2 linked regions of the Homo sapiens genome follow. The main gene of each other region encodes a partner of the protein of the gene in region 2 in a complex. Links are inferred from orthologs where the notes say so. Each region holds a gene or a part of one and is shown on either strand. Other genes may lie near its edges. The genes, in order: SLN and ATP2A1.

Region 1 (15,614 bases), on a different chromosome or scaffold from region 2:
GACATGTTCAACAGATACTTATCTAGTGATTATGACGGACCAGCTAGAAACTAAAATTAAACATTGAAGACAGTCCCCATAAACAAGAATTGCACATGGGAGAGACAAACAAACCAATACAATGTGATAAATGCTATGAGAGTTTAGGCATGAGGCCCAGAGAAGGAAATTATCTGGGGATAACTTTTGGGGTAATAACACTTAATGGCAAAGAGAATAGCTATGCAAGGACCCCACAGTAGAAGACAGCATAGCATGATTGAAAACCACAAATAGTAGGAAATGGTTGGAAATGAGAGTGGAGGTAGGGCGTGGGGGACAGGTAAACAGAGGAGAGGCTACAGGTAGACCTGGATCCGCTAAGAAGGGTCTTCTGTGCCAAAGTTTTAAAAAACATTCTGAAAACAGGAAATGATAAACTAGATCTACTGAAAGAATGATAGATAACATATTCAGAGGAAAAGGGAACAGAACCAGTTTAATTTGTCACTAACTACTTTCCGGGGGTACTCTAGGCATTCAGGACAGGATTCTGGGTAATGAGATTTCAAGGTGGTAACAGACATACCCAGCCTGCTAAGGAAAGGTCCAGGGATGCCATCTAGAAATGGCATTGATTATGCACCAAAATGCCTGTGGGGCAGGCAAGAATGGTAGAAAGACTGTGTTCCAGTGAAGCAAAAGCGACAGCAAAATGATAAAGGAATAGTAAAAGTAAAGAAAGGGCTGTCCCCTTGAGATGCCCTAAATTAAATTAGAGAACAATGGAAGCACTACCATTTTGTGACCATTTTTGCACACCCCATGTGGGTCCATGAAGCAAAGATGGAAATGTGATTATGGATGCTGATCAGGTTGGCGTATCTTGAGTCTCTTTTCTTAGAGCCACGGCTTGGGACATGAATTATCTGGATAATTTCTTATGCCTTATGGAGCCAACTATATGGCAGCCCCAGGAAGAGGAGTTGGGGACCAGTTATGGTGTTGAGACTGCCAGAAATGAATAAAAAGTATGTGTATTTCAGTGTAAGAGAATAGTTAGATAAAAACAAGAAGGTCCAAAGGATGTACACCTTAGTAGTGAGTTTAGAGAAGACTGGAAGGAAAGTCTAAGTTAGCACTGAAAGATGCCTTTTTAAAAAAAATCAGATGGTTGGTTGGTTGGTATGGTAAAGTGGGCAGCTCAATGCCAATACAGGCTGGAATCTTGGAATCCCAGGACTTATGGCAAGAAGAGGAGAACATCACCCAACAGAGAACTGCTCAATGGGGTGAGATGGTAAACGGGAAGAGCCAGTCTGGCTGCTGTGGACACAAGTGATAGGACAGCCCTAGGCCAGTGTCTAAGTTATATGTAAGCACAGACATGACTCAAACAACTGTTGGTGGCAAAGGGCCCCCTCAGTGCATAAGGCATGCCAGCAAGAATCTCAGAAATGATTCAACTTGGAAGTCAGAGCAACGTGACAGAATTGTGAGATCTGCTCTTATGTGGCATGACTACTGCCAGTGGCTGGAGAGATGCTGTGTGCTTCAACTACACCTAAATTCGCCATCCTCTCTAGCTTTTGGTTTTTCATTCCTGCTATTCCTTCTGCCTGGAATCTCCTTCAACAGCACCTTATCCTTATCTTGTCAAAGAACTTTTCACACCATTATAACTACCCATTTAACATATCTGTCTACCCCACTAAATGGTATGCTCCATGAGAATGGGGCTTGGCTTTCTCGCCATTTTATCTCCAGTGTCTAGTAAATGCCCAGCACTTAGTTTCATAATAAGTACTTGTTGAATGAATGAATGAATGCAAGAGAAAAAAGCCAGAGTAGGATCAAGTCTATGAGCTGGAACTTCAGTTAATAACTAGGATTCAGTGCTCTGGTTCTAGAGAACTAGCATCTTGTTTGGGATAATCAGGCAGCGTTTCAGTGGATGGAGCCAACATTGAGGGACGCAGAGTTCTGTGATGAATCAGGGTACTTGAGGTCATAGGGAAGTTTGTACATAAAGGAGACTTATGAGTCAGACTGGGATTTAGCCATAATGACTAGGACTCCTGAATGTGAAAGACATTACATAATTCCTAGCCCCACCACTAAAGTTGTTAATGGATATCCTATACCTGCAAAGATTGCTCACAATGTGGTCTAAAAATGGGCCCTCTCAGTAGATTCAGTCACAGGAAGTTAGAGAAAGAAAGGAGTGAGGATTAACAGGCAAAAAGAAATGACATAGAGTACTGCAATTGTTACCTTGATCGAAACAGGCTGATATTTTAGAATACTAAAGAATGTGAGGGTAAAACCTAAAGCATAATCCAATGGTTTGGAGATCTATAACAAAGCATGATTTGTACTCAGTTCCCCATAGAGGTTAAGATGATCCTTTTCTCATTGTGGCTTCCCCACTCACATCTGTTTAGTGAAGTCTCTGATCCTCAGTTCCCAAATCTGCTAAATGGCATGAGTTATGGAAAGTGCCCAGAACAGGGCTTCATATACGGTAGACTCAATAAATGGTACCTGTTGTCAGTGTTGGCACCATCACTCAGATTTCTGTGAAAGGCCAGATGGTCCAACATCTGAAGGGAATGTTGTGGCTCTCCCCAACACACACACACACACACACACACACACACACACACACACTTTCTCAAACACATACACAAACAGTAGGTTTTCTGCAAATAGGGGAAAGACGGCTAACCGTCTACTGAGGGCCCTAGAGCCACAAGTCTGTGAGTACATATGCTGCCTACTAAATCATTAGCAGTTGCACATCCATATGTGTAGTCTAACTGAAGTTAGGGACAACGCATTGAGGACTATATGCTGCTATTTCCCAATTTGGAGAGGAACCTCTCAAAATATAACATTTTTTCTTTAGCTATTTGAGGATTCTTAATCCTGGCTGCACATTAGTGTCACCTGGACTTCTTCGAAAAAAAGAATAACATTCAGGTTCACCCAAGGCCGAATAAATTAGAAATGGCTAGGAATGGGGCTCAAGCTTGCGTGGTTTTGCTAAGGGTCCCCCCAAGTGATTCTAATATGTTAATCCAAGGGTAGCAGTCTGGAAGGGCAGCACTGGCATCACTTAGGAGCTTGTCCAAAATGTAGGCTCTCAGGCCCCACCCCAGACTGAATCAGAATTAGAATGGAATTAGAATCTGCGTTTAAATGAGACTTCCCAGTAATTCACAATCACATCAAATTTTGAGAAGCAAGGGTTGGTATCAGTGATTCTCAATTCTGGCTACACAGTGTAATCATCTAGAAGATATTTTAAAAAGATAGATACTTGGGCTCTATCCCCTGGGATTTTTATTTAATTGGTCTGAGAAGGACCCAGCCTCAGTATTTTGAAAAATCACCCCTGGGATAATTGACTTTCTTTGAATGCAGCCAAAGGTTAAGAACTATAATGTGATGTAGTCAATGCCTCAATGACAGGTCAAATTCTTGGCAAGAAATGCCTTCATGAAGGCGGCTATGTAAGATGAGGTTTAACAACATTCCCTTTCTCCATGGTTACCTCAGCACAAATAGCAAATTTGTTCTGTCTAACATGGGGTGTTCAGGCAACACGTTTAAGAAACATCTATTTTATATGTCTTTTATAAACATATAAGTTTGCATTTTCTATTTTCCTCCTTTTAGAACTGTAGTTGATTAAAGACTAGCTCCATTTGTGTAATAACAATAATCAAAATAGACTATGCTACTCTTAGGGACATGACTCATGTTCTTGTGTTACTTAGTGTAAATAATTTTAAATATTTATATGAAAACAAACATGAAGATATTATAAGATAGAAAATACATTTCTTGTGGATTCTAAAGATAAAACACAAGACTTCAAAGAAATGTTGCACTTTTAGCCAGCAATTCAGCCTGTGCTTCAGACCCCGTAGTGGAATGGATTTATTCTCCCTCTGCCCTTCAGACTAGTTTAGGGGAAAAGTTTGAGGAGCGCTGAACCAATGGAATTACTTGAAATATGACACAGTGTGTTGACTTGGTTTCAAATCTTCAGCAGTTGGAGCATCTTGGCTTACCTCAAATGCTAGAAATACGGTAGCACTTGTCACTCCAATCCCAGCCAAGGGTCAAATGCTCTGTCACACATGGAAGCTAAAATAAGTTCTAGAAGTTGTTTTTGAAGTTGACTTAACTTTATTCACATGATAGCTATAAGGGCTGACAAAGACTTCCTCTAACATTCCTTCTGGCAGGTTGAATTAGAGTTTGGTTGCAGACCGTGTGGGTTGAAGGGATGTGTGGTGAGACAGATCAGGGGCTTGTAACAATCCTACATCATCATGAATCCAGTTTAATTTTAACTTTGTGGCTTGTCTAACACATTTTCAGTTAAGAGTTGGGGAATAAATCTACCGTTCCCTGGCAAACACTTGGCAGCCCTTGGGAGCAGCATCTTTGGAGAACACATAATCAATCCTAGCACTACAGCATAGCAGATATTGTGAGTGCAGGTCACAGGTGCCCTCGGATGGAGAATGGCATCCTGTGACAATGACAGCAGTGGGGTCTCAGGGCATAGAGCAGGCAGCTCCGGAGCATCTCAGTCAATCCCAGGACCATGGCATGGCCTCTCAGTACTGATAGGACCTCACAAGGAGCCACATAAGAATAACCGTAATCAAGACAATAGTGAAGTTGAGAAACAGCTCCCGGGTGTTTATCCCCATTTTCACAGCGGCTTGGTGAGAACTGCAGGCAGATTTCTGAGGGCACACCAAGGACCTCTGGCTTCTCCTCACCTCCTGATAAAACATAACAAAGAAAACACAAGGAGATTAATGGGCATTCCTGTATAACAATGCTCGTTCTTTCCTCAAAGGAAACAGAAGTGTTGTGGAAAAGGAGAGTGTGATGGGCTAAATTGTGTCCCCCAAAAATCTACATGTCAAAGCCCTAGCTCACAGTATCTCAGAATGTGACTGTGTTTGAAGATAGGGTCTTTTAAGAGGTAAATAAGTTAAAATTAGGTAATTAAGGAGGGCCCTAATCCAATATGACTAGTGTCTTTATCAGAAGAGATTAGGACACAGACACATGCAGAGGGGAAGACCATGTGAAAACACAAGGAGAAGATGGGCATTTACAAGCCAAAGAAAGGACTCAGAAGAAACCAACTGTGCCAACACCTTGATCTGGGACATGTAGCCTCCTGACAGTCTTTGGACTGGAGACTTCCCTAAGTCTCCAGCCTACCAGCCCACCCTGCAGATTTTGGACTTGCCAGTCTCTGCAATCGCACAAGCCAATTCCTTAAAAACAGACACCAATCCCCTCAACACAACACATTCTATTAGTTATGTTTCTCTGAAGAGCCCTAATGATTACAGAGAGAGAGCCTGATTTCTCTGCCTGATGTCATAAAGACCACCATTTTTGTCCTGACTTTTTTCCTGTGATGATCGTATTGGTGCTTTTCATAAAATGTGAAATATTACATTTTTCTTTCTCCAACTTCTGTGTGTGTTTGCGTGTGTGCGTATGCATGTGTATACTTTTCTTAAGAGTATCAATAAGCAGGGGTACCAAAACAAAAAAATTTTATGGTTTAGTATTGTTCTTGCTTTGAATTACATAGATAAGTGGGATGCCATAATCTTTCAGGCCTCAGGCTGCTGTAGGTCTTCATCTAACTCTACGGAAAGCAGAAAGTACTTTCAACAGCTGCATGGCCTCTGACAAGTCCTGCATTGGGCACATAGCCTACTGGGATCAACCAAAAGCCCCTGGCATAACAGGCATTCAGCCGAAAGAGCAAGTGTTAACTTCATGGGTACTTCGGTTTCAACAAGGGCTTGTGCCAGCTATTTTTAGTCAGGTCCAGGATGTGCCTAGATTGTAAACATTTCAAAGAGCAGGGATGGTATCTTCATAGTATGTACAGATTGTCCATACAGGAAATCATACTTTGAGAACATGTGCAATGAAGTCATCAAACTATTGTCTTCAGTGAGATGGTGTAAATTGCACATTATTTATGCAGCCTAAATGAAATTAAAGATTTATATATTTTAGATAATTCGATATCTATGTTTTAGACATTTAGGACCAAAGTCTACTGTAGAGTGAAAGTTTAGGGAGAAAGGGTATTTTGTGTGTTTGCTAAAGGTGAGAGTTCAAGAGGCTGAAAGGGTTGTTAGCAAGCTTTTGGTCTGAGTGGTATTTTTAAACTATCTAGCATGACTGAATTATTAATTGTAATTACTGTATTGATTATATTATCAATGGACCAAATTGTTAATTGCATAAATGCCAACTGAATGATCATTTTTCATATTGTGTAATTGGCATAACATACAGGTTCAGCCAGGCATGGCAGTCGGTACCTGTAGTCCTAGCTAATTGGGAAGCTGAGGTGGGAGGATCCCTTGAGCCTAGGAGTTTAAGACCAGCTTAGGCAACATAATGAGACCCTGTCTCAAAAAAAAATACAAGTTCAAATCAGATGGTGCCAACCAGTAGATATATAGCCAAATGATGACAGATTTATATTTCATCTCCCTTTTAATTATTATCCATCTTTTAGACCTCAGCATGAAGGAAATAGTAAATTGCCAATGAAAACCATTACAAATGGCTGGGCGTGGTGGCTCATGCCTCTAATCCCAGCCCTTTGGGAGGCTGGAGTGGGAGGATCACTTGAGCCTAGGAGTTCAAGACCAGCCTGGATAACACAGCAAGACCCTGTCTCTCCAAGAAAATAAAAAGGGGAAAAAATAGAAAATCTTTACAAAGATTTGCATGGAGGAGAAAGTAAACAGAATAAAATGAATGGATCAAGGAAAAAGGATTTATGAGAATGTACAAAAGAGCAGAGGAGAACAGAACGGTAATGAGTCTTGCCAAGGTGCCTGGAGGCAAAGGAATGAGAAACGAAGACAGACTCTTTCTTATAAACTTATCAATGAAATAAAACCATAGTCCAAATGTCCATCTATTTGGGTAAGTTCTCAAGAAATGCAGAGATAAGCAGAAAATATGAAGCCTGGCTTATAATGGTCAAAACAATTCAAGGAGAGCAAAACAACGGTCCCACCAAATCTGCCTATTAAATTAAGCTGTTAAGTCATGGGAATCATGGATAGTGATCCAACAGGATATACTCAGAAAATGAGAAAAATACTATTGAAAGCTGTTCCACAGCTCTGTTTGTGTTACCTTCGCAACAACTCAGGCAAGTGTTACTGCAGTTTTTATCTTTCTCAAGATTACAGCTGAGAAACTGACTTTTAGAGAGAGGAGATTAAGATGTTTGTGTAATGACAGATAACAAGTTAGAGGCAAAGCTAGAATTAGCAGACTGGAACTAGTTACTAGAATTCCTAGGAGTTATGACACAAGTGAATTGTCACTGCAATTAACTGGCCTGGCTAAACAAAGTTAGCATAAATTTTCAACCACTTTGGAAAACAATTTAGCTTTCTTAGAATTAATGTTGAAAATGTTCATTCTCTAATATCTGGCATTTCACTTCTACCTTAAGACAGTCAAGGACGTGCGTGCCAGGTTACATAAATAAAGAGTTCACAGCAATATTATCACAATAACTCCAAACTGGAAACAACTCAAATGTTTATCAACAGCAGAATGGATGATAAATTGTGGTATAGTTATACATTTGAATTTCATAAAGCAAAGAAAATATATGAACTATAGCTACACAGAAAATGGGTAGATCTCACAAATATAATTGTTGGGTGAAAGAAGAATTTACAAAAGAAACAGAGAATATGACTCCATTTATATGATGTCAAAAATAGGGAGGTTAATCATATTGTTTAGGCATGCAGACATAGATGGTCAAATTATAAAGAATAACAGGGACAAGAGGATCCCAACATCTTGGGGCAGAATGGGGGTTGATCAAGAATGGGCTTCTGGGTGCTGGCAATGATCTGTTTCTTGACCTGGATGATAATTATAGAAGTGTTGCCTTTCAGTTATTGTTTAAACTGTGTATGTTTATGCACTCTTAACTTTTTTTTTTTCAGTCATTTCTGAATTAGCAGGCTACCCATCACACTTCTTTCTTTCTTGGGATTTACCTCTTACTACTTCTTGCACTTTAATGGTGACCTTGAATATTTGTTGTTTTATGTGATTTTAGATGAATAAAACATGAAGAGTTAAGGTGAGAATTTCTAGTGAATTCAATTCAATCAACACATATGCTAACTGTAAGGTGTGGTGTGAACATTCCTTTCACACACATTTATACACTTTAGGAAGAATGAACCAGTTAGGCAGAAATTCAGATCAGCCAAGTTCCATTTTTCTGCTTTTAACCAATAAAGACACTTTGGGTTTCATTTTAAACATTCCCTGAAGTCAAGGTCATGCCATATGATCCAGTGATTGCAAATGGATGAACTAAAACCCAAAAAGCTCTGAATAAATTGTGCAGGAAGTTTGACATTGGCTTTCTTTGAATGGAGACTTAGAGAAGATAGAAAAAAGACCATCTTCCATAATACAAGAAAGAAAAAAAATTTTTTTTTACTAGGAAGGGAGAAAATGCATACCCTTAGGAGAAAAAAAAAGGAAAACAGAAAGCAATAGTACTCACTTTATATCTTAAGGCATGCTGTATCCAAGGGGCATTGCCTATTTCATTAAGAAATGCAAACATTCCTCTGCCTTTCTCATTTGCAGCTTGTACACACACACACACCGTATGCTAAGCATAAAAATCCTGCAGTTACCTGAAGAGGATCAAAGACACACCCTGGCTATGGCAGGTTTCTCCTCGCTGTCTCCAACTTGAGCTCCAACTCCTTCTCCCCTCCCAGGCTGTCTGGACTCCTGGACTCTGGGCAGCGCCTAAAGTAGTCCGTGGAAGCTGGCAATCACTGTGATGTCACTGATGAAACATCTCAAAGGAACACCCTCCGAAGGTTCGAGGCTATTTGTGTTCGGGGGACATGGAAATATGTTGACTAAGACTTTGTTCCTTTGGCTGCCAATTTGCCACCACCAGGATTTAAAAACCTTCTGTTTCCAGTTGACTTTTAGTGCAATTGATGTGGGTTTTAAATGTGTCTTTTACATCTTCATGAATAACTTTAACATGTCTTTAAAACATCATAAACCAAGAATGATAGACTAATTTTAACCAATCGATGCTGCATTTGACTGCTCTCCCTAGTCAGCCTGTGAGGTGTAAAAATGTGACTTCATTTTACCACCCATATCTTTAGTTATTTGAAATGTGAAGAGTTTGCTGCCTTACACCCACACATATGCACACCCATACACACACACACACACTCCAGAATTCAATAGGCATCTTTAGCTCTTTCAAAACTGACTTTAGTCCAAGCAGTGAAAGCTATCCCCTCCGTCACCTGCTCCACGTAACTTTCCAGCTAAGCTGTGCATTGCAAGTTTACACGTGGATCTACAGTTTCATCTGAAACAGCCGAGGAAGTCATGGTTTGTATATCTCTGGCAATAAATTAATAGAGCAGTAAACTCACACAGTTCAACTCAGTTATTTGGATAGATTGGGAGTGGAAGGAGAACTGGGTAAAATTAGTGAAAAATGTGAATTATAGAATATATCTGAAAGAAAGAAAAGTATTATATAACTTTCTAATATGAACACTAACTAAAATTAGACTAAGATGAGTTTGTAACCAATGTATCACATGTTTGGAGCCCCTGAAGTGTTAAATTAGACTTGAAAGCAGATCAATTAAGTACTTTAAACATGACCCTAGCAATTGTGTTTGCTCAGCAGATCCTTTCTTTATAGATAATAGAGGAAATCTCCCCCTCTGAATTCCCAATTAGGGTCAATCAAAATAATGCATTCCCAAAAGGCATAAACAAACAAAATTCTCTATGCAGTTATGCTCATAGTCAAACCTTTCCCTCCATTCCTCATACCCCAGAGACATTACCAAAACAAGACTTTCCATTTCATTTCCTCATTTTAACATAAGCTTAGCAACGGGTAATCTTAATACAACATTCTGTCACCACTTGTCTTGTGAAAAGAGCGCTTGCTGAAGTGACAGAGAGTGTATAATAATTATAGTGCAACCGAACATTGGCAGTTATCTGTTGCCATCTGGCAAACTCCTTGAATGTAATCAGAGTTCTGTCTTCTGCCTCCAAGCTCTCACTAGATTGTTTCCCAGGCTGGGAATGTTTTTCTAGTTACCAAGCCACACCTGTCCCTTTTTGTAACCACTCAAAATTATTTTTTGTCAAATTAAAAAAGTTATATATTTATTGTAGGACATGTGAAAATATATTAAAGTATTTAAAACTTTTAAATTACTTTTAATCTCACCACCCAAAGGGGAAAAAAACAAAACTTTACTTTACTTTTTTTTTCTTTTGAGATGGAGTTTTGCTCTTGTCACCCAGGCTGGAGTGCAGTGGCGTGATCTCAGCTCACTGCAACCTCCGCCTCCCGGGTTCGAGCGATTCTCCTGCCTCAGCCTCCTGGGTAGCTGGGATTACAGGCATGCACCACTATGCCTGGCTAATTTTTGTATTTTTAGTAGAGATGGGGCTTCACCATGTTGGCCAGGCTGGCCTTGAGCTTCTGACCTCAGGTGATCCAACCGCCTCAGCCTCCCAAAGTGCTAGGATTATAGGTGTGAGCCACCGGGTGCCCGGCCTACATTACTTTTTATTCATCCGTTTGAGGCTGCATAGGCACAATCTCAAATTCCCAGGATATTTTTGGTAAAAGAATCTGAAACTTGAAAACCTTTTTTCTTAATTCATTTGGAATCAAATTATTTGTAGTATATCATGTGTTGATATTAGGTTTATGGGATAAGCATTTATTTTGTACATCTCAGATTATGAATTAGCTCTACAATATTTAAAATGTTAAATACAATAGCGAAATGTTAACGTATCACCAAAAGAGCTCTCCAATGTTGTCATTTTGTTGAATTGGTCAATTTCAAAGTAACTTAGAAGAAAAATTCTACTTCTTATTTGACCGAATTGATGGGTTAGTCTGGTTTGCCTCATTTAAGCATGTCTAAGCTGCACCAAGGACTACTGTGCCCAGTGCATTGACAAATTCCCAGACTTCAGACGCTTCTGAAAATTAGTGGTTTCTTCTGTAATGTCAAGAGATTGGGATTACACTTGGAATGTAGTTATCACTAGTTTAGCTTTACCCTCTCCAGAAACACATGCAAGCCGCCCCAAATCACCTGACAACTACTCAAAGGCATAAGGAGGGTTTAACCCTCAGGATCTGCAGGTTTGCTTAAAAAAAAAAAAAAAATCTTGTTTCCTGCAAGGAGCCAAAATAAAATAAAAATAAACTCAACATTATTTTACAAAATCAACATTATTTTTTCTCATTTAAGAAGTTGAGAATTCCAACATTTCAGACCTTAGTACCAAAGCAAATTCATCCTTTGCAATTAACGTTACTTAACTCTGCTAATACTTTCCTTCCTGAGAGCAATTGCCATGACTTAGCAGCATTCATTTCATATCAACTTTCTTTCAAGGTACTTCTCTGCCCATTGGCAGGACGACATTCTAAATAAACTTTGAAATTATTTCTCTGCCTACTAATCTAGAACTTAGCCAACGGCCAAAAATGTTAAGAAAACAACATTCACATTGACGCTGGCACTGAATCTCTAATTGGTATCTCCCCACCACCATCACCATATACATTCTCAGGTGTGAAAATGACATCCTTTGAGAATCAGTGCTGAGCTCTTGTGCCTGATCGGTTGCTAAACTAGCTCGTTTCATGTACTCCCCTCGTCCACCCGCCTTTTTACCCTGAGAACTGAAAAGTGAAGACCTATGTCAGTCCTAGAATTCTGCAAGTCTGCAACATGATGAGAGAAGTCACCAAGGCCTTGATGAAGGTGATAAGCTCTCAGCACTTCACAGTATCGAGCATGATCGTCTCAGTGGCCTTCTCACTTTGCCATCTTCACATCCAGCTGGTCATGGAGCTGGGAGAAAGAGAGCAACAGCTTTCTGCTATTCTCCCTCACTTTCCCAAACACATGAGTGAGCGCATGCCCAGAGAGAAATGAAAACCCTACTTCTTGAAGTTTTCTCCACGTCACTATTGCCACAGTCATCAAATAAGCCCTGCCTTTCTGGCCACGGGGAAAGCCCATGTAAAAGTCATGAAGAAACTTAAGTGGCCACTGGCAGGTCGACACAATACTGCTAATTCAAACACTTTAGCCCAAGCCATCTGCGGGAAAGTGGAAAGCAAATGGACCTTGAAGTGACAAAGGCCTGTGTTCGTATTCTAAATTTTCCACTTACTGAGTAACATTAAAAAAATGATCATCTATCCTTTCTGGGCCTCAGTGTCCCCATCTATAATATGGGAATACTAATAACCCTCAAAGATCTGTGATCAAGATCCAATTGATAATGTACGTAAAATCAACTTGTTCCTTTCCATCACTAAGATTTGGTACTACACCGATGTGTGTAAAGCCAAGCATAGAGCCTGCCTGGTCATAAGTTAAACCATGCTAGTTGTTTGAGGTTTTTTTCAATCCTAATCATTAAAAGTAAATAAATAAATGACAAGGAGGAACTCCTTTCTCTTGGACAAGTACAAAGCTTCTCTTTTCATTTATGACCAAAGGAGAATGGGCTGAGTGTCACTTCGTGTAAAAATCCTGTGAAACATGCACTAATATAAGGACTGACTTGAGCCCAGGCAGTGAATGGAGGGCATGGAGTTGAAGAAAGCTTGGCCTCCTTGACTCTGTCTCTCTCCTGCCACCTGTGTGTCTCTCAGATGCTGCCCAGGTACTGCCACTACAGAGCCGAGGGGATGTACATCAGAAGGCCAAGTCATCACCTTTGCCATTACTTCTGCAATTGTTCAACTGGTATCAAGTGAACACTACTAAATACACAGCATTGTTCTAGTCACACAAGAAATAATAATGACACAGAGTAGGGCTACTGCCCCCCAAAAGAAGAAGATTAAGAAAAGTAGACACTATTTGCAGTCCATCAACAGATGAATGGATAAAGAAAATGTCATCTATATACACAATGGAATACTATTCAGCCTTAAAAAAGAAGGAAAATATTGGAGAACATGATGCTAAGGGAAATAAGCCAGACACGACAAATACTGCATGTTCTTACTTATATGCGGAATCTGAAACAATCAAACTCATAGAAGCAGAGTAGAATGGTGGTTACAGAGGCTGGGGAATGGGGTGAATGGGGAGATGATGGTCAAAGGATACAAGGTCTCAGGAAGAACAAATATATTTTAGGCCTATTGCACAGGATGGTGAATATAGTTAATAACGGTGTATTGTACATTTCAAAACCGCTAACAGTAAATTCCATTGTTCTCACCATGAAAAATGATAAGTATTTGATGTAATGGATATGTCAATTAGCTTGATTTAATTATTCCACATTTGGTAGCCTATAAATATCTACAACCACCAATTGTCAATTTACAATAAAATTTGAATTTTTTTTTTAAAAAGGGGCAGCTGGCCGCAGTGTCTCACGCCTGTAATCCCAGCACTTTGAGAGGCCAAGGCGGGTGGAACACTTAAGGTCAGGAGTTCAAGACCAGCCTGCCCAACATGATGAAACCCCATCTCTACTAAAACAAAAATTAGCCGGGTGTGGTGGCATGTGCCAGTAGTCCCAGCTACTGGGGAGGCTGAGGCAGGAGAATTGCTTGAACCTGGGAGGCAGAGGTTTCAGTGAGCTGAGATTGCACCACTGAACTCCAGCCTGGGTGACATAGCAACACTCCATCTCAAAAAAATAAAAAGAAAGGGACAAAAAAAATTAGAATACAAGACAGTGTGAGAGAGGTGGCATCAGAATGACGTCAGGAAAGATGATAGGAGTACCTGGGTGAGATTAAAAGAGAGCAGAGCAACTTCTTACAAAGCATAGAGAGTGGTACTGAAGATGAAGCAGACTCATAAATGATCAACTAGAAGACTTGAGTTGAGCCTCAAAAAGAGAAAAAAAGCTACTTAGGGCTAAAATAATAATAATAACCACAACAATGTCAAGTAGCACTTACTAAACATGAATCACCTTATTTAATTCCTTCAACAATCCTGTGAGGTGGGTACAACATTCCTATCCCATGGAGGAGAAAACTCGGGCCCAGAGAGGCTGTGCCTTGATAAGTCGAAGAGTGCCTAAGTGACAGAACTGAGATTTAAAGCTTTTGGACCCAGCCCTGAGCTCTAACCACTACACGATAGTGCATTCAGGACAACTATGAAAGCATCCTCTAGCCCAGGAGCCTCCACCTCCTTTTGACTGTGCACTTTATTGATAAAAAATTTTACCATGATCACTGACAGAAAATGTATGTATTTTTAATAGATTATATGCAGGTGCTACTATACTAATTTATTGTGCATATTTTACAGCACACTAATAAACATTTTAAAATATGAGGCCAGGTGCAGTGGCTCAGACCGGTAATCCCAGCACTTTGGGAGGCTGAGGCGGGTGGATCACTTGAGATCAAGAGTTTGAGACCAGTCTGGCCAACATGGCGAAACCCCATCTCTACTCAAAATACAAAAATTAGCTGGGCATAGTGGCAGGTGCCTGTGATCCCAGCTACTCAGGAGGCTGAGGCACGAGAATTGCTTGAACCCGGGAGGCGGAGGTTGCAGTGAACCAAGACTGCACCACTGCACTCCAGCCAGGGGGACAGAGCAAGACTCCATCTAAAAAATAAATAGATAAATAAATAAATAAAATATGAGGCACAAAGCAAGAGAAAGTAAAAGTCTACTTTGTTTGTTTTTCCCCATCAGGAGACTACTTTTCCCCCATTTGGAGACCTCTGCAATACTCTATGGCACCTAAAAAAGAATGCCATAAAATTTAGCTTTTGGTTATACATTGAATACTGGAAGGTGAACAATAAATCCTTGTTGAAAATATAAATGATTATTACCTCTGTCATTACCCACTTGTGACAACTGTGATTTTTGTCTCACTAACTGAATTTAAACTTCAAAGTCACAATTGCTTGTATTTCTTTTGTTTCTCTAACTGTGCCCTGAACCAGTGAAGAAGCAGAGTAGATGCTCCAAAATGCATAGCATTGATGCATTTTGAATGATGCATTTTGAGTGATGGAGGTTGAGCCTCCATCACTTCACATCCCTGCTGATGTCCAGGTATGTCTGAGCATGGTAAAAGTCAGTGGGGAAGTCAAGGTCAACATCAAAGCTACTCATACATGGACCTCAAAGCCTCCCAGGAGAAACTCCTCTGAAGGGAAGTGAACCAAGAAGATACACATAGGGCCAGGTGTGGTGGCTCACACCTGTAATCCTGGCACTTTGGGAGGCCAAGGCAGGCAGATCATCTAAGGTCAGCAGTTCAAGACCAGCCTGGTCAGTATGGTGAAACCCCAACTCTACTAAAAATACAAAAAAAAAAAAAATCAGCCAGGCGTGATGGTGCACACCTGTGGTCCCAGCTACTTGAGAGGCTGAGGCAGGAGAATCGCTTGAACCCAGGAGGCAGAGGTTGCAGTGAGCCAAGGTGGTGCCACTGCACTCCAGCCTGGGCAACAGAGCGAGACTCGTCCC
Region 2 (15,644 bases):
CATCCTCCCAGCGACAGCAGGGTGAGCAGAGCAGGTCTGCAGGGGAGGAGGTGCCCGTGCACCCAAGAAGTGAGGTGTGTGTGCCAGAAAGATGGGGCGGGGAGGGGGGACTATCACAAGGAGAAGCTTTGCTTGGGAGAGCAGGGTAGAGGAGGCTGTTGTGCCTCGGGGTTTGGAAGGGAAAGAAATGCGCTGATAGGACACAGGAAGGCAGAAGGCTCCTGGCCGGAGCCGGGGCGGCAGCTGAGAGGTGGGCGGGCGCATCCCCATTCCATCGGATCCTCTGTTCCATTGTCTGTCTGTCTCCTGGACCCATCCTGGCCTCGTCTTTGCCCTCCGTCGCAGCCTGGCCTTGGGCCTGCCCTTCCCGGGGACACTCGGTCTGATCCCCTTCCCTCCTCCCTCAATGTCTCATGTCCCTGTCTGATCTCTCCCTTTCCCCTGCCCCACCGTCCCATCTGTCCCCACGTTGCCCCTCCCCCCAGGCCGGGAGCAGGCTGGGAGCCATGCGGGGGTGTGCGAGGGAGATGGATGCCACCCCGATGCCTCCTGCACCCTCATGCCCTTCGGAGCGAGTGACTGTGTGTAAGTGTGGTCCTCCTCTCACCACCGCCCATGATCCATCTTCCATGGATGGGGGGTTGCTCAGGAGATGGGATGTGGGGAGACAGCCACGCTCCTGGGGGGCTGAGTGAAGGGGAGGCCACGGCAGGAGCTCACCTGCCTCCACAATCAGTCTGTTTTCTTACCATTCCTATCCAGAACCGACCACCTCCCATGACCCACCCCAGCCCCCTGAACCCCCTTCATGGACAGATCCCCCACAGCCTGGGGCAGAAGAGGCGTCGAGGGCGCCAGAAGTGGCGGCAGCAGCAGCCGCAGCAGCCAAAGAGAGGCAAGAGAAAGAGAAAGCGGGCGGTGGAGGGGTCCCGGAAGAGCTGGTCCCCGTGGTTGAGCTGGTCCCCGTGGTTGAATTGGAAGAGGCCATAGCCCCAGGCTCAGAGGCCCAGGGCGCTGGGTCTGGTGGGGACGCGGGGGTGCCCCCAATGGTGCAGCTGCAGCAGTCACCACTAGGGGGTGATGGAGAGGAAGGGGGCCACCCCAGGGCCATTAACAACCAGTACTCCTTCGTGTGAGCCAACCCCACCCGCTCCACCCTTTTTAAACCCCCCAGCCCTGCTCGTGAGATTGGGCTGGGTAGGGACAGAGGAGGCCGAAATCCCTCCCCCATGCTTCCTGACCCTTGTTGGCCAAGGGCATCTTTGATGGTACAAGCAGAGGCTCGGGAGAGGCTCCCGTCACACACTACAGGTCCCCTCCCCAGGGCAGGGGATTTGGGCTCCATGAGCTCCTTGAGGGGCTCTTCTGGTCAGCCCCACCCTGGGGGCCATTTCCCCATTAACTACCCCCAGCCCGAGGCAGGGTGAGGGGGAAGGGCTGTCAGTTACATTAAGGTGGTTGTTGTTGTTGTTTTAAACAAAATGGAGAAGCATAAATAAATAAAAAGGTTTATCTCGGTTCTATCGTGATGGCTATGGCCATTGTTTGCTGTGGGGACTGGGGACAGTTGGGTTGGGAAGGCAGCCCACTCAGTGCCCACAGGCCAGAGGGCTGGCCCAGGCCAGTCCCCATCATTCTGCAGTGCTGTGCTTTCGGAGCCATCCCTGTGTCTGACAGCCTTGTTCGTGGAGCACTAAATGATGCTCTTGGGGTCTCCTGCGAGTTTTTGTCATGGGACAGTGCTGTGAATGGCAGGCATGGTGATCTCCAGCGGCCCTTCCTGAGTTATGGCTTTGTACCCTAGAGAGAGCTGGCAGTGAGAGATGGGAGGCACGGTGGCTGTGCTGGAAGAGATTGAACGTGGCAGTCACAGGGTAGCCGCAGAGGGGCCCAATGGCCCCCTTCTCAAAGCCAGGCTGGAGGGATGGCAGAGGGCACTAGCTTCTGTCCTGGCCTTGCCACTCACTGGCCTGGGCAAGGTGTAGCCACGCCGGGCCTGAGCATCCTCATCTGTGACATGTGAAGTTTCATCTTGAGTCAGAGCTGCTGACATGGTTTGCTTGGCCTGGACATGGTGTCCATTTGAGTTTCACATTAAAAATTCAGATCACAGGCCAGGTGTGGTGGCTCACGCCTGTAATCCCAGCACTTTGGGAGGCCGACGTGGGTGGATCACCTGAGGTCAGGAGTTTGAGACCAGGCTGACCAATGTGGAGAAACCCCGTCTCTACTAAAAATACAAAAAATTAGCCGGGTGTGGTGGTGCGCGCCTGTAATACCAGCTACTCAGGAGGCTAAGGTAGGAGAATTGCTTGAGCCCAGGAGGTGGAGGTTGCTGTGAGCCAAGATCGCACCATTGCACTCCAACCTGGGCAACAGAGCGAGACTCTGTCTAAAAAAAAAAAAAAAAAAAAAAAAATCACTGGCTTCTCTTAAAAATCAGAAGATCCAGTGATGTGGGTCCACTTCCACATCTGCCCCATCCCCACCAGCTCACTTTGCTCCCTGGGAGGGCCTGGCCCTGTGGGCATTTGAGTTTATAACACCACCCCCATTGTGGCACACCCCTCCACCCCGTAAAACACAGGCTCTGCTCTTGGAATCAGTCTTCCTGATCTGTGGCTGTGCCCTCCAACAGAGGGCACCCCTGGGCTTCCCAGCTCTGGGGGTAGTGGGTGCCAACAAGGAGGGGCCTGGGGCTGAAGAATCCCACCCGCTGAGCTCGGCCTTCTCCCTTCCCCACTGTCCAGCTCCGCCTTTCAGCATCCTGCCTCACTCCCCGCCCAGGCAGCAAGGAGCCCACACCCTCATGCCCCTCAGCTTCAGCCCCCACCTCCAGGAGGCCCTACCCACGCTCATGACCTTGCTATTCTGGGCCTTGTGTCCTGTAGGGAGATGGACAGGAGACAGCTGGGCTTCCAGGCCACCCAGGCGGGGGGCTAGCCGAGGGAAGCCTGCTGGCTCTCCTGCTTGCTCTAATTTCTGGGGCTCCCCAAACCTTGGCCTCAGGAGACTGGGGATAGGACCGGCCTTGAAAGTGGGGGAAGCTTTGGAGAGCCGGGTGCTGGGTTCTTAGTGAGATGGCCAGTGAAGGCTGTGGTGCCCCGAGGTAAGCAGGGCCTGATCCCCTCCTAATCTTCCAGCAGCAACTGGTGCTCTGAGGCTCCCCCTCCCCCAGCCCTGCCAGCCTTCAGGGACCTGCCTTCCAAAGATGGGCAGGGGAGGGGGACGAGGACACCCACCCACTCCTCAGACCAGCATGTCTTGGCTGTTGGGGCCTGAGAGACTTTCCCTCTAAGCCTTTCTTTACAGATGGTTAAACCGAAGTTCTGCACTCATCAGGGACTGGCCAGGGTGTCTCTGTGTCCCATGCTTTTAGCTCCAGCCCTCAGGTGTGACAGGAGGATCACTTTCCATCCCTGGGCGTGGAGACCCCTGTGGGAAGGGATCCCCGAGGGCGCCTCTGGCTCAGCCTCCCTCCATGGCAGTTCACACCCACAGCCTTCCCTAGAGCAGCCCTTCTGCAGCTCCTGGCGGGTGGCTTTCCCTCCCTGGCTTGTTTCCCCCTCTGGGAAGCCGGGGGAGGTAGAAATGAATAACCTTAAAGGCCTGTTGGCAGGAATGTGCTGCCAAGCCTGCCCCCTGCCCTCTGTCTCAGGCTCTCGACTCCCTCGAAGCTGCCCATCTCTCCGTCTGCCCCTCTCCATGTTTGGGCATTCCCACTGCTGTAAGACAGTAGCCCCTGTCACTCCTCCAGGTGCCGGTGGGGAGACGCCGGCCAGCGCCAAAAGCCTTGGCGGGTGTGAGCCTGAGTCCAGCGGAGACGGTGGGTGCTGGGCCGGGTGGAGGTGCCGGGGGCTGTGTCTCTTGGAAGAGAGGCTGCTAATGCTCTCCTGCACCCCCAATTCAGCCCACTGTCCCCCACTCCCCTCAGGTCACAGCAGGATTCTGCTTCAGGGGAGGGGTTTGTTGGAACTGTGAAAAGGAGGCAGGAAGGAGCACCTTGTCCTCAACTCACCCAGGAGGCCGCGCCTCACCCAAGTCCAGGCAGAAGGGATGCATCTGGGAGGCTGAACCCTCAAGTTCCATCCACCCCTGCTGCCATCCCCCTCCCCAAAAGTGGGGGCCTCCCTTTTCTTTGCTCTGCTGTCTCCTATTCTGTCCTCTGCTTCGGAGTTTGAGCCCCAGAATGGAAAGCAGCCTTAAGAAGCCACACTTAGGAAGTCCACATGCCTCTGCTCATTTCAGGAAACAGGCCTAGACAGAGGACGGACTTGAGCCCAGGGCACCAGGCCCCTTCCCCTCACTGACCTTTCACCCTGACTCTCATCCAGCCTTTCTGCCTGCCTGTCCTCCCCTTCCTGCACCCCTGGTACCCTCCCTCGGCTCCTCCAGCAGCTGCCCTGGTGGTAACCAAGAGACGCCCCCATCCTGGAGCAGGGGTGGGGAGGGGCAGCTCAGAGCAGCTGCTTCTCTGAGGAAGCTGACACCAAGGCCAGCATTCAGCAACAACTTGTGGCTTTGCACCCAGCGCCGGGGTCCCCGCCCACCTGGCTCCCTGCTGTCCCTCTTCCCCACTGCTGCTCGGACTTCCCTCTGACCCTGGTGGCTCTGTGTCTCTGCTCCCTTTCCCCCTAGGTCTAGACATCTGTCCTTATTTCCCCCAGACCTGTCCCCAGAAGTCCACCCTTCCCCATTCCTTTGGTCTGGAGCCCCTGCTTGGTCCAGCTTCCCCAGGCCCCGACACCTTTCTGTGGGGTCTGCCTAGCTCCTGCACGCACACAGCATGGGCCTGATCCTGTTCCCCTCGTGGACAGATGCAGCAGGGCAGAGTGCAGCGCAGACCACAGGCCTCTGGGGCTGGCCACAGAAACCCCGTTGGTTAGAGCACAGTGTGGGATGAGGTGACCCTCAGTGCACGACTTGGGGTGACCCCTGCCCCCATCCTGAGACAGTTACCCCTCCCCCTCTGCCATCAGCACATTCTGTAGCCTCTTGGGTTACTTGGCTGCCTTGGTGTCCCATTTTCTTGGGGGTGGGGTGGGGATTCCCTATCCAGGATGGGGGGGCCCTCAGGGCTCTGTTCCCAGAGGCTGAGTTAGAGCGATGGGGAAGGGGGGGGGCAGTTTTGGGGAGAGACAGGCAGTGCTGGCTTTGCTCACCAGGGCCTGGACACTAAATCCCTTGTTGATGGCTGTGGCAACCCCTCCCTAGGGTAGGGTTACCATCTTCGGCCCTGTCCCCTTGACTCTCTCCCCTCACTTCCCCTTGTCCCTCTAGGAGCCACTCACTTCCTCTAGCCCCCAAAAGATGTTCTCCCTTCATCAGTCCCCCAAAGGCTTGGGGTATCTCTGCCACTGCTTCAGCAAATGGGGTGAGGAGGAAGGAGACTGCGGCAATGGAAACAGGCTCCGGGCAGATGAGGCAGGAAGGGGGGTGTGAGGAAAGGGACAGGTGAGGCCGGGGATGGAAGAGGGCTCCGGGAAGAACTGGGGGGATGAGTTTGGAATGGGAAATTCAATGCAGCTGGGGAAGTCGAGGCAATGGGGGGGCAGGGTCAGTAGCAGATGACAGAAAGTGAAGTCTCTCCCTACCCCACTTCCCTGGGGCTGGGGCTACCTTTGCGTCCCTCATGAGTGACATCTCAGGCTGCAGCCCCACTGTTCCCCCTCTGTCAGCAGAAATATCTCTCTTTTCTGACCACCTCCTGCTGGAGTCTCAGCCAGCCAATCCCTGATCTGGTGGAGGGGGGAGCCCGGCCTCCCCCTGCTCCCTCATAAGGACCAGCTGGGGGCCGGGGGGTGGCCGGCTGCTCAAGTGGGACGGGGGTCAGAGCTTTGTGGAGGGAAGAAAAACCTGGAGGGGGCAGGAGAGTAAAAAGAAGAAACCCAGGCAGACAGGCAGTTGGACACACTGAGGAAGACCCCCCACGAGTGGGAACCCCCTGGAAGGAACACACCGGCCCCGGCCCCCAGGAAGGGAGCACAATGGAGGCCGCTCATGCTAAAACCACGGAGGAATGTTTGGCCTATTTTGGGGTGAGTGAGACCACGGGCCTCACCCCGGACCAAGTTAAGCGGAATCTGGAGAAATACGGCCTCAATGGTAAGTGTCCCTTGGAAGAGCGGCTGGTAATTAATGCCCTCCTGCACCCCCAAAACACACGCACACGCATGCACGCGTTTCTCCCTTCAGGGTTTCTTAAGGAAGAGCTGGGCCGTTGTCCAATGCTCGCAGGGGGAAGAAGATACTGAGAAAACAGAGTCCCGAGATCCAGAGTTTTGGGAGGTTTTAATGGGATGAACTTGATGAACCTCAAGGTGGCCTGATTCTCTTAGCCACAAAGTCTTGGGTGTGGGGGGCATGAGGCTGAACCCCAAATGAATCTGTCCTTTTCTTCTTTTTCCTGGGTAGAGCTCCCTGCTGAGGAAGGTAAGTTACTGGAATCCCTGAACTCTCATAAATGACCACCCCCCACCCCGCCCTGTCCCACTCCCTCCTCCCTGCCTCTTTAGATTCTTTGAGCAAATATCCCTTCCCAAAAGGCAAATCTCCCTCCCTAAAGGTTAGAGTCCTGTCCGGGGCAGAAGTCTCCCAGGCGCTTTCTCCTTGAAGCAGCCAACCCTTGAACTGCCCCCCACTTTGCCGAGTCTGTTTCTGGACTCCAGGCGAGCTTCTTAGCCCTTCTCTGGGCACCAAGCTGTCTGCCCACCACCCTAGAGCCTCCCCACTGCAGGCCGGAGTCCAGGGCGCTCCATCCCAGACCTTCACCCACTAGACCTTAACCCGGGGCCCTCCCCTTGCCTCCTCCCCCAGGGAAGACCCTGTGGGAGCTGGTGATAGAGCAGTTTGAAGACCTCCTGGTGCGGATTCTCCTCCTGGCCGCATGCATTTCCTTCGTAAGTGTGGGAGGGTCTCTGGGGGCTGGCTGGGGGTGTGAGGCTGGGATCGGGCGAATGCGGGGCTCGCAGTCACTGGATCCTCCCGTCCGAGTCCCGAGCATCCCATTGTACAGACGGGGCGGGCTGGCGCGCAGCAGCGGGTGTGATTCGCGTCCTCCTCTCTCCTCCCCTGCACCCCAGAGGCAGGTTTTATTTTAAGCTTTAAGGGTGTTCTCAGCCAAAACACCGAAGCTAAGCCACCCTCGCGGCTTCAAGAGCTTGGAGAGCTCGGGTTACCCACCCGAACTCCGGGCTCCGGGTCCCGCCGCGATGCCGGCTGCGGCGCGGGGGGCCACTGCCACTCCCGGCATGCGCCGGGCGGACGGCCGCTCCACCAATCCCCGCGCCCGTCGGCGCCCCTGCCCCGCCCTCCCCAGCCTCCTGACGCTGATTGGTCGAGGGGAGGACTCGCTCCTAGTGGCGGGAAAGCGCGGCGGTGTGATGATGACTCCAAGGAGCCCGGCGCCCGGTCAGGGAGGGCACTGGCATCCCTCATTACCCGCCCAGCCTGGCCTTAGCCCTTCCCCGCGCTCCCTAGGCACCCCCACCCCCGCAGGGCATCTCCAGGGCTCTGCCTCCTCTCCCGCCCTGGGGGCTACTCCCCATCCCGCGGTCCATCTGCATGTCGCGGGTTCTTCCGCAGCATGTGAGCCTCGCTGGGGACTCTGGAGGCAACGAAAGCCTCCCTGTGCCTTGGTCTCCGAACGCAGGCCCCGTCGCGTTAAGCACAAGCTGGCAGGGCCTCTCCTCTCCCTTCTCAGATTTGCTCCTTGACATTTGCCTGCTGCCTGGCGGTGGCAACAGCTGGGGCGGGGCGCGCGCAGGAGGCCCCGTAACCCTATCCCCGCTCCGGCTCCCTCGTGAAACCGGAGCTTCCCTGCCTTGGCCGAGGGGGAGGGCTGCGGGGGCCAGACCGCCTGCGAAGACCACAGGGTTTTTCCTCTCGGGTTTTGGCTCCCGTGGGATGGATGTGGCTGTGCGGGGGGTTGGCCTGAGCTTCGCTTCTAAGCCAGCAGCTTGGTCAGGGAAACCTGAAAGCATTCCCAGCTAATCCCCCAAGTGGTGCAAGTCTGTGCGCGCCCATCCCGCTGAGTAAGGCGGTGGCAGGACCTGCAGTGGATGGACAGACCCTCAGACGGATGTGGGGCCACAGCGCCCCGACGGTGCCCGGCCCTCCTGCTGGCTCCTGCACTCTCCTGCACAGTTCTCCCCTTTGCAGTGGTCCACTTCCTTTCTCCATCTGTTTTGGGGCCTCATTACCTGTCATTCTCCTTTCCCCTGCTCCCCAGGTGCTGGCCTGGTTTGAGGAAGGTGAAGAGACCATCACTGCCTTTGTTGAACCCTTTGTCATCCTCTTGATCCTCATTGCCAATGCCATCGTGGGGGTTTGGCAGGTTAGCGTTGACCCTTCCTTACCCCTTCATGTCCCAACAGTGAAGAAGAGGCCAACCCTCCCTCCAGTCTCCTCCTCCTCCATCACCTCCCCCATACTTGCCTCTTCCTCTGGTCCTATCCCCTGGTCTGGAATGGGATGGAGTGTGGGGAAGAGGTGGGAGACTGTGACCCACTGTCACTTCCTGGCTATGTGACCCTGAGCAAGTTCCTTCATCCCTCTGAGCCTCAGTTTCTTCATCCATAAAATGGGGCTAGCAATCCAGTGTGAAATCGACTAAGATGATGCATGTTCCTGGCACACAGTAGGAATTCAATAGACGCTAGCTTGATTTCCTTCTTCCACTGACCTGACCACCCCCTACATGTCCTGTCCTCTGCTTCCTGGTTTGTTTTGTTTTGTTTTGTTTTTAGGTCATTTCCAAAGTGAAAACCCAAATGCTACCTTGCTTTGGTTTTAAGAAATGTCAGGCTATAAGCCATTTTTTGGTGCTCACTGGTTTCTGAACACTGAGGATAGAAATAGCCACTTTCATACTTTGGGAGGCCGAGGCGGGTGGATCAGTTGAGGTCAGGAGTTCAAGAGTAGCCTGGCCAACATGGTAAAACCCCATCTCTACTAAAAATACAAAAAAATTAGCTGGGCATGGTGGCAGGTGCCTGTAATCCCAGCTACTCAGGAGGCTGAGGCAGGAGAATCACTTGAATGGGGAGGCGGAGGTTGCAGTGAGCCAAGATTGCACAATTGCACTCCAGCATGGGCAACAGAGTGAGACCCAGTCTCAAAAAAAAAAAAAAGAGAGAAATAGCACTTTCTCTTTGCCCCAGTGTTACAGGCGCAGCAGAGCCACCTGTGTCTGTGGTGCTGACAGGTCCAGGACAGCATCTGCAGGGCAGCCTCTGATTTTCTTTGATTTTTTATTTAGATTTTTCTTTTTGAGACAGGGTCTCGTTCTCTTGCCCAGGCTGGAGTGCAGTGGCGTAATCTCATCTCACTGCAATCTCTGCCTCCAGGTTCTGGTGATTCTCGTGCCTCAGCCTCCCAAGTAGCTGGGATTACAGGCGCGTGCTACTACGCCCGGCTTTTTTTTTTTTTTTTTTTTTTTTTTGTACTTTTCGTAGAGACGGACGGGGTTTCACCATGTTGTCCAGGCTGGTCTCGAACTCCTGACTTCAAGTGATCCGCCTGCCTCAGCCTCCCAGAGTGCTGGGATTACAGGCGTGAGTCACCATGCCCGGCCTGATTTTCTTTGATTCTTCTTTGTTCCCTCCCCAAAACCCTCTCACCTGTTTTCACCTGTAGGTGACAGTTTCCTCAACATACACACACCCCTGCCTGTGTGGGGTTTTGTTGCCTCCCCCGTGCCAGGAGCCACAACTCCATAACTCTGCCTCCTGTGTATAACCCTGCCTCCTCCACCCTGTCTCCTCAGGAGCGGAACGCAGAGAACGCCATCGAGGCCCTGAAGGAGTATGAGCCAGAGATGGGGAAGGTCTACCGGGCTGACCGCAAGTCAGTGCAAAGGATCAAGGCTCGGGACATCGTCCCTGGGGACATCGTGGAGGTGGCTGGTGAGTGACAGGGACGGCTGGTCCAGGATGGGAGGCCTTGGGGCTGAGGCCTAGGAGATGCCGGGGGCTGGTCAGGCTCGGATCCAGGTGTCCAGGAGGATGACGGAGTCTGCTTCTCTTTCCGACTCCTCAGAAGGTCATCCCAGGCCACTCCGGCCACATCCCCCCCTCCCCAGCGGAGTCTCAGCAGGAACAGCCAGTCCTGTCCCTGAGGCTGCAGGCAGACCCCCTGCTCCCCATCCTCTCACCCTGCACTTGCACTCGCAGGCAACAGGTGGAACCCGGTCCCTGCCAATGGCCCCGTCTCCACCCCCTCCCGGGCCTGGCTTCCCCCTCCTTCCACCCACCCCAAGCTTGGTCAGCTTTCAGTCTTGACCTCTCTGTGCCCTTGAGGCCTCTCAAAGGGGAAGGAGCGAGGGCAGAAGGGAGGAGGGAGGCCGAAGGCTCGAGCCCCCGACCATGTAAGGGAAACTCAGGCCTGGCACAGAGCACGCGACCGGGGAGGAGGGAGCTCAAGGAGGGCCCCGCCCGCGGCAAGGGACACTTAATGCCTGGCCAGGGAGGGGTGGGGGCCGGGTGGCTAAGATTACTGGGATTCTGCCCCCTTCAGCGGTTTTTATGTTTGCCCTGAGCAGGCCTTCCCGAAGCTCCAGGCCCCTGCCAGGGGGAATGGCTCTTCAGAGGCCTCCTTCCCTGTAGCAGACATCCGAATCACCACCCCAGGGAGCTTGGGCAGAGGGAGTGAGGGCAGGCTGAAGACCCCAGCGCCCCATCACAGGGCAGCCTTGCCGCCGTGACAGCATGGAGTCAGCGCCATGAATGTCTATAAATATCACGCGGGCTTGGGTGACAGGGTGTCCCGCCCGACTCTATCCCGACCTCCCTCCTCCCTCCTCGGTCCATTTCCTCTGGCACAGGAGGGATCCTTAGAAACAGAGGGAAAGGAAAGCGATTGGACCCTGTCCCCAGTACCATCCGTGGGACCAGTGCGGAATTAGGCAGCGGCCCTGGGAGATTCTTAGCCTCCTCCTAAGGTCTCTGAGTCTGGCTGGGCATCCACCTCTCCAGCCCCCCGACAAGGTGGTTTCCATGGCCTGCCAGCCCACCTGTGCGTCTCCCTGGCCTCACCTCCACCCATTCACTCTCCAGCCTGTGCTGCCCGCCCCACTCTTCCACACCTGTTTCCTGCCCAACCCCCGCTTCTCTCCTGTCCCATCCCATCCTGTCTTGTCCATGTCCCCAGCTCACTCTCCCTGGCTCCCCGCCTCCCTGCCTCCCTGAGATGCTCAGACCGGGCTGTCAGGTTCCCGATATGTGGTCCTCTCCATGACCACCCTGTGCCCCCCGCTGCCTTGAGTCCTGCCCACTCATACCTTCCGCTCACTCCTCTCCTGCCTTGCCCTCCACTGTTCCTCTTGGTTGCCCTCGATTTTCTCAATTTCCATATTTTCCCGTTTCTCCTTGCCTTCCCTGGCTGTCCACTTCATTCTCTCACCCCGACACCCCTTCTCTCTAATGCACCCTGTTTTCCCTGAGTTCTTTCCTTGCCTTTCCTCCTTGCCTTTCTCACTCCTGTCTCCCAATCTCAATTATAGCTTCTTGTCCTACAGCTGGACTGTCCCTAATTTCCCCTCCAGTCATTCAGTGGGCATTTATTGAGCATGTACTATGTGCTGAGCAGTACACCTGCCCATCCCTTCTCAGGGCTCACAGCCAGTGGGAAGAGATGTGGGAGTTCAAGACCAGCCTGAGCAACAGAGCGAGACTCCATCTCGCCGTGGACACGGGGGCAGAAGGGATGGGTGTCACGATGAGGGGTTGCCAGCTTCAGGAGCTCAAGCCAAGGGCCTGATGCAAGCCCTGGGAGCCTCCCTGAGACCTGAAGGATGGATGAGGAGAACGAGTCAGACACAGATTGGGTTTTTCTTTGGAAGGAAGAAAATTCCATTCCCAAGTGACCTCCCTCTTCCCTACTCTCTCCACAGTGGGGGACAAAGTCCCTGCAGACATCCGAATCCTCGCCATCAAATCCACCACGCTGCGGGTTGACCAGTCCATCCTGACAGGTCTGCTGGCCTGGGTGGGAAGATGCATGGGGGTGGGACGTGGGGAGGAAGAGGCAACAAGGGGGAGGTGAGTGGAAAGACAGAGAACCCTCACTGTCTGAGCAACATAAAGAGACCCTGTCTCTACAAAAAAATTTTAAAAACTAGCTGAGCATGTTGTTGAGTGCCTGTAGTCCTGACTACTCAGGATGCTGAGGCAGGAGGATCGCCTGGGTACAGGAGGTCAAGGCAGCAGTGAGCTGTGATCACACCACTGCACTCCATCCTGGGCCACCCTGTCTCTGTCAAAATAAAAACAAAAGGCTGTGCGAGGTGGCTCATGCCTGTAATCCCAGCACTTTGGGAGGCCGAGGTGGGTGGATCACCTGAGGTCAGGAGTTAGAGACCAGCCTGGCCAACATGGTGAAACCCCATCTCTACCAAAAAATACAAAAAACACAAAAATTAGCCAGGCGTGGTGGCAGGCACCTGTAGTCCCAGCTACTCAGGAGGCTGATACAGTAGAACTGCATGAACCCAGGAGGCTGAGGCTGCAGTGAGCCAAGATCATGTCACTGCACTCCAGCATGGGCAACAAGAGCAAGACCCCATCTCAAAAAAAAAAAAAAAAGACAAAACAAAACAAAACCCAGCACTGGGGCCTCCCCCTGGCTCGCTAGTAGTGGCTGTGGCAGTGGCAGCACTGCTTGACATTTTCTTTTTTTTTTGAGATGGAGTCTTGCTCTGTCACCCAGGCTGGAATGCAGTGGCGCGATTTCAGCTCACTGCAACCTCTGCCTCCTGGCTTCAAGCAATTCCCTGCTTCAGCCTCCAGAGTAGCTGGGATTACAGACGTCCACCATCACACCCGGCTAATTTTTGTATTTTTAGTAGAGACAGGGTTTTACCGTCTTGGCCAGGCTGGTCTTGAACTCCTGACCTCGTGATCCACCCACCTCAGCCTCCCAAAGTGCTGGGATTACAGGTGTGAGCCACCCACTGCACCTGACCTGCTTGACGTTTCCATTCTGTCCCAAGCCTGAAACGGGACGGGTAGTGGGAGAAGGCTGGATGTTGTTGCCTACTCTCTAGATAGCCACCAGCCCACCCCTTCCACATGGACATAGGGCCACAGACACCTCGAGAACTGTCCTGTCTCCTTCAGCCTCCTCAAAAATCCTCCAGGGAGGAGCCATGAGATTCTAGGACAAGATAGGGGGTTCAGATACACTGAAAACCATGGCTGCTAGGCTGGGCGTGGTGGCTCATACCTGTAATCCCAGTGCTTTGGGAGGCTGAGGCAGGAGAATTACTTGAGGTCAGGAGTTTCAGACCAGCCTCGGCAACACAGCGAGACCCCATCTCTATAAAAAAAAAATTTTTTTAACTAGCTGGGTGTGGTGGTGTGCACCTGTAGTCCCAGCTACTTGGGAGGCTGAGGTGGGAGGATTGCCTAAGCCCAGAAGCTTGAGGCCACAGTGAGCTATGATTACCACGGCAGTCCAGCATGGACAACAGAGCAAGACCCCATCTCTATAAAATTTTTTTAAAAATTAGCTGGGCATTGTACTGCACACCTGTAGTCCCAGTTGTTTGGGAGGCTGAGGTGGGAGGATCACTTGAACCCAAGAGTTTGAGGCTGCAATGAGCTATGATCACACCACTGCGTTCCAGCCTGGGCAACAGAGCAAGACCCTGTCTCTGTAAAACCACCATAGCTGCTTCTGTTTCCGCACTGGCAGGGAGAAGCGAAGAAGAGGCAGAAAACATTCCCCATGGTCCCAGGGGGCAAGGGCTAGGCTGGCCCAGGCTTGCTGCTGAGCCCCTGCTCTTAGGGTGAGGGAGGCATGGTCGTAAGTGTAGGTCCCCCTTCCTCCCAGAAACATGCTTGACAGTTAAAAGTGTGGCTCCAAATATGTCCACTTATTTGATTTTCACCCAAGACATTGTTTTGCAGTGTACATGTCCTTGTCCCCATTTTACAGAGGAGCACATGGAAGTTAGGTGATCAAACACAGCTTGTTAGTGGTCAAGCTGGGGCTTGGGTCGAGGTCTTTTTAAGAGCCGTGGACTTCTGGCTGGGCACGGTGGCCTGTAATCCCAGCACTTTGGGAGGCTGAGGTGGGCGGATCACTTGAGGTCAGGAGTTCGAGACCAGCCTGGCCAACATGGTGAGACCCCGTCTCTACTAAAAATACAAAAAAAAAAAAAAAATTAGCCAGGTGTGACAGCATGTGCCTGTAATCCCAGCTACTTGGGAGGCTGAGGCAGGAGTATTGCCTGAACCCGGGAGGTTGCAGTGAGCTGAGATCTTGACACTGCACTCTAGCCTGGGTGACAAGACTGCAACTCTGTCTCAAAAAAAAAAAAAAAAAAAGGAGCAATGGACTTCCTAGCTGCCTTCAGTGGCTTCTTCCAGAGTCCAGACATCCCCCAGGATGGCTACTTGGTCCTTACCAGGAGCTGTCCTGCTGAGCAGGGAGAGAGTTAGGCACGGGAAGCCTGGGAGAAGGACATGATGTCATCCGAAAACCCCTTGGCCCCTTCTCCACAGGCGAGTCTGTATCTGTCATCAAACACACGGAGCCCGTTCCTGACCCCCGAGCTGTCAACCAGGACAAGAAGAACATGCTTTTCTCGGTGAGCAATCCGGGACCAGCCATCACACACTCAGTCAAGCCAGGTGCCCGGGTTGGAGAGAAACATGGCGTGTGAGAAGAGATGGCGTGGGGAGATGCGGCATGAGGGTCACCTCTTGCCTGATTCCCTGCCTCCTCTTTCCCTTCCCAGGGCACCAACATTGCAGCCGGCAAGGCCTTGGGCATCGTGGCCACCACTGGTGTGGGCACCGAGATTGGGAAGATCCGAGACCAAATGGCTGCCACAGAACAGGACAAGACCCCCTTGCAGCAGAAGCTGGATGAGTTTGGGGAGCAGCTCTCCAAGGTCATCTCCCTCATCTGTGTGGCTGTCTGGCTTATCAACATTGGCCACTTCAACGACCCCGTCCATGGGGGCTCCTGGTTCCGCGGGGCCATCTACTACTTTAAGATTGCCGTGGCCTTGGCTGTGGCTGCCATCCCCGAAGGTATGAAAGCCTTTCTTTTCTCCTCCCATTTGCTAATCCCATCTGCAAAGACCCCTTTTCTTTTCTTTTCTTTTCTTTTTTTCTTTTTTGTTTTTTGAGATGGAGTCTTGCTCTGTCACCCAGGCTGGAGTGCAGTGGCGTGATCTCGGCTCACTGCAAGCTCCGCCTCGCGGGTTCACGCCATTCTCCTGCCTCAGCCTCCCTAGCAGCTGGGACTACAGGTGCACGCCGCCATGCCTGGCTAATTTTTTTATATTTTTAGTAGATACGGGGTTTCACCGTGTTAGCCAGGATGGTCTCGATCTCCTGACCTCCTGATCTGCCCGCCTTGGCCTCCCAAAGTGCTGGGATTACAGGCGTGAGCCACCGCACCCGGCCTTGCTCAGTGCAACCTCTGCCTCCTGGGTTCAAGTGATTCTTCTGCCTCTGCCTCCCAAGTAGCTGGGATTACAGGTGCACGCCACCATGCCTGGCTAATTTTTGTGTTTTCAGTAGAGATGGGGTTTCACCATGTTGGCCAGGCTGGTCTCGAACTCCTGGGCTCAAGCAATCCACCCGCCTCGGCCTCCCAAAGTGCTGGGGTTACAGGTGTGAGCCACCACGCCT

What was found.
Region 1: the proteins of ATP2A1 (region 2) and SLN are in contact, whole or in part, in a crystal structure (PDB 3W5A), measured with the Oryctolagus cuniculus proteins. The link is inferred for Homo sapiens from one-to-one orthologs. Residues at the interface, in XP_069919846.1 of Oryctolagus cuniculus: Phe88, Val89, Leu96, Ala100, Ile103, Val104, Trp107, Arg110, Asn111, Asn114, Arg324, Lys328, Trp794, Leu797, Gly801, Leu802, Thr805, Ala806, Phe809, Trp932, Ser936, Leu939, Leu943, Leu946, Ile947, Val950, Pro952, Leu953, Ile956; in NP_001075856.1 of Oryctolagus cuniculus: Met1, Glu2, Arg3, Ser4, Thr5, Arg6, Glu7, Leu8, Leu10, Asn11, Phe12, Val14, Val15, Thr18, Val19, Leu21, Ile22, Trp23, Leu25, Val26, Tyr29.

What each region holds. Positions count from the first base shown.
Region 1 is NC_000011.10:107,703,222-107,718,835, forward strand, and holds SLN (sarcolipin), read right to left. Parts: upstream 8,836-15,614; 5' UTR 8,742-8,835; intron 4,785-8,741; 5' UTR 4,710-4,784; coding exon 4,614-4,709; 3' UTR 4,157-4,613; downstream 1-4,156. UniProt on the Homo sapiens protein: Reversibly inhibits the activity of ATP2A1/SERCA1 and ATP2A2/SERCA2 in sarcoplasmic reticulum by decreasing the apparent affinity of the ATPase for Ca(2+). Also inhibits the activity of ATP2A3/SERCA3.
Region 2 is NC_000016.10:28,872,685-28,888,328, forward strand, and holds the start of ATP2A1 (sarcoplasmic/endoplasmic reticulum calcium ATPase 1), read left to right. Parts: upstream 1-5,803; 5' UTR 5,804-5,987; coding exon 5,988-6,105; intron 6,106-6,272; exon of another isoform or gene 6,273-6,414; coding exon 6,415-6,432; intron 6,433-6,804; exon of another isoform or gene 6,805-6,816; coding exon 6,817-6,899; exon of another isoform or gene 6,900-7,237; intron 7,238-7,358; exon of another isoform or gene 7,359-7,410; intron 7,411-8,230; coding exon 8,231-8,335; intron 8,336-9,766; coding exon 9,767-9,905; intron 9,906-11,890; coding exon 11,891-11,971; intron 11,972-14,504; coding exon 14,505-14,590; intron 14,591-14,740; coding exon 14,741-15,038; intron 15,039-15,644. Other genes in the region: SH2B1 (SH2B adapter protein 1), read left to right, coding at 1-21, 763-1,136. UniProt on the Homo sapiens protein: Key regulator of striated muscle performance by acting as the major Ca(2+) ATPase responsible for the reuptake of cytosolic Ca(2+) into the sarcoplasmic reticulum.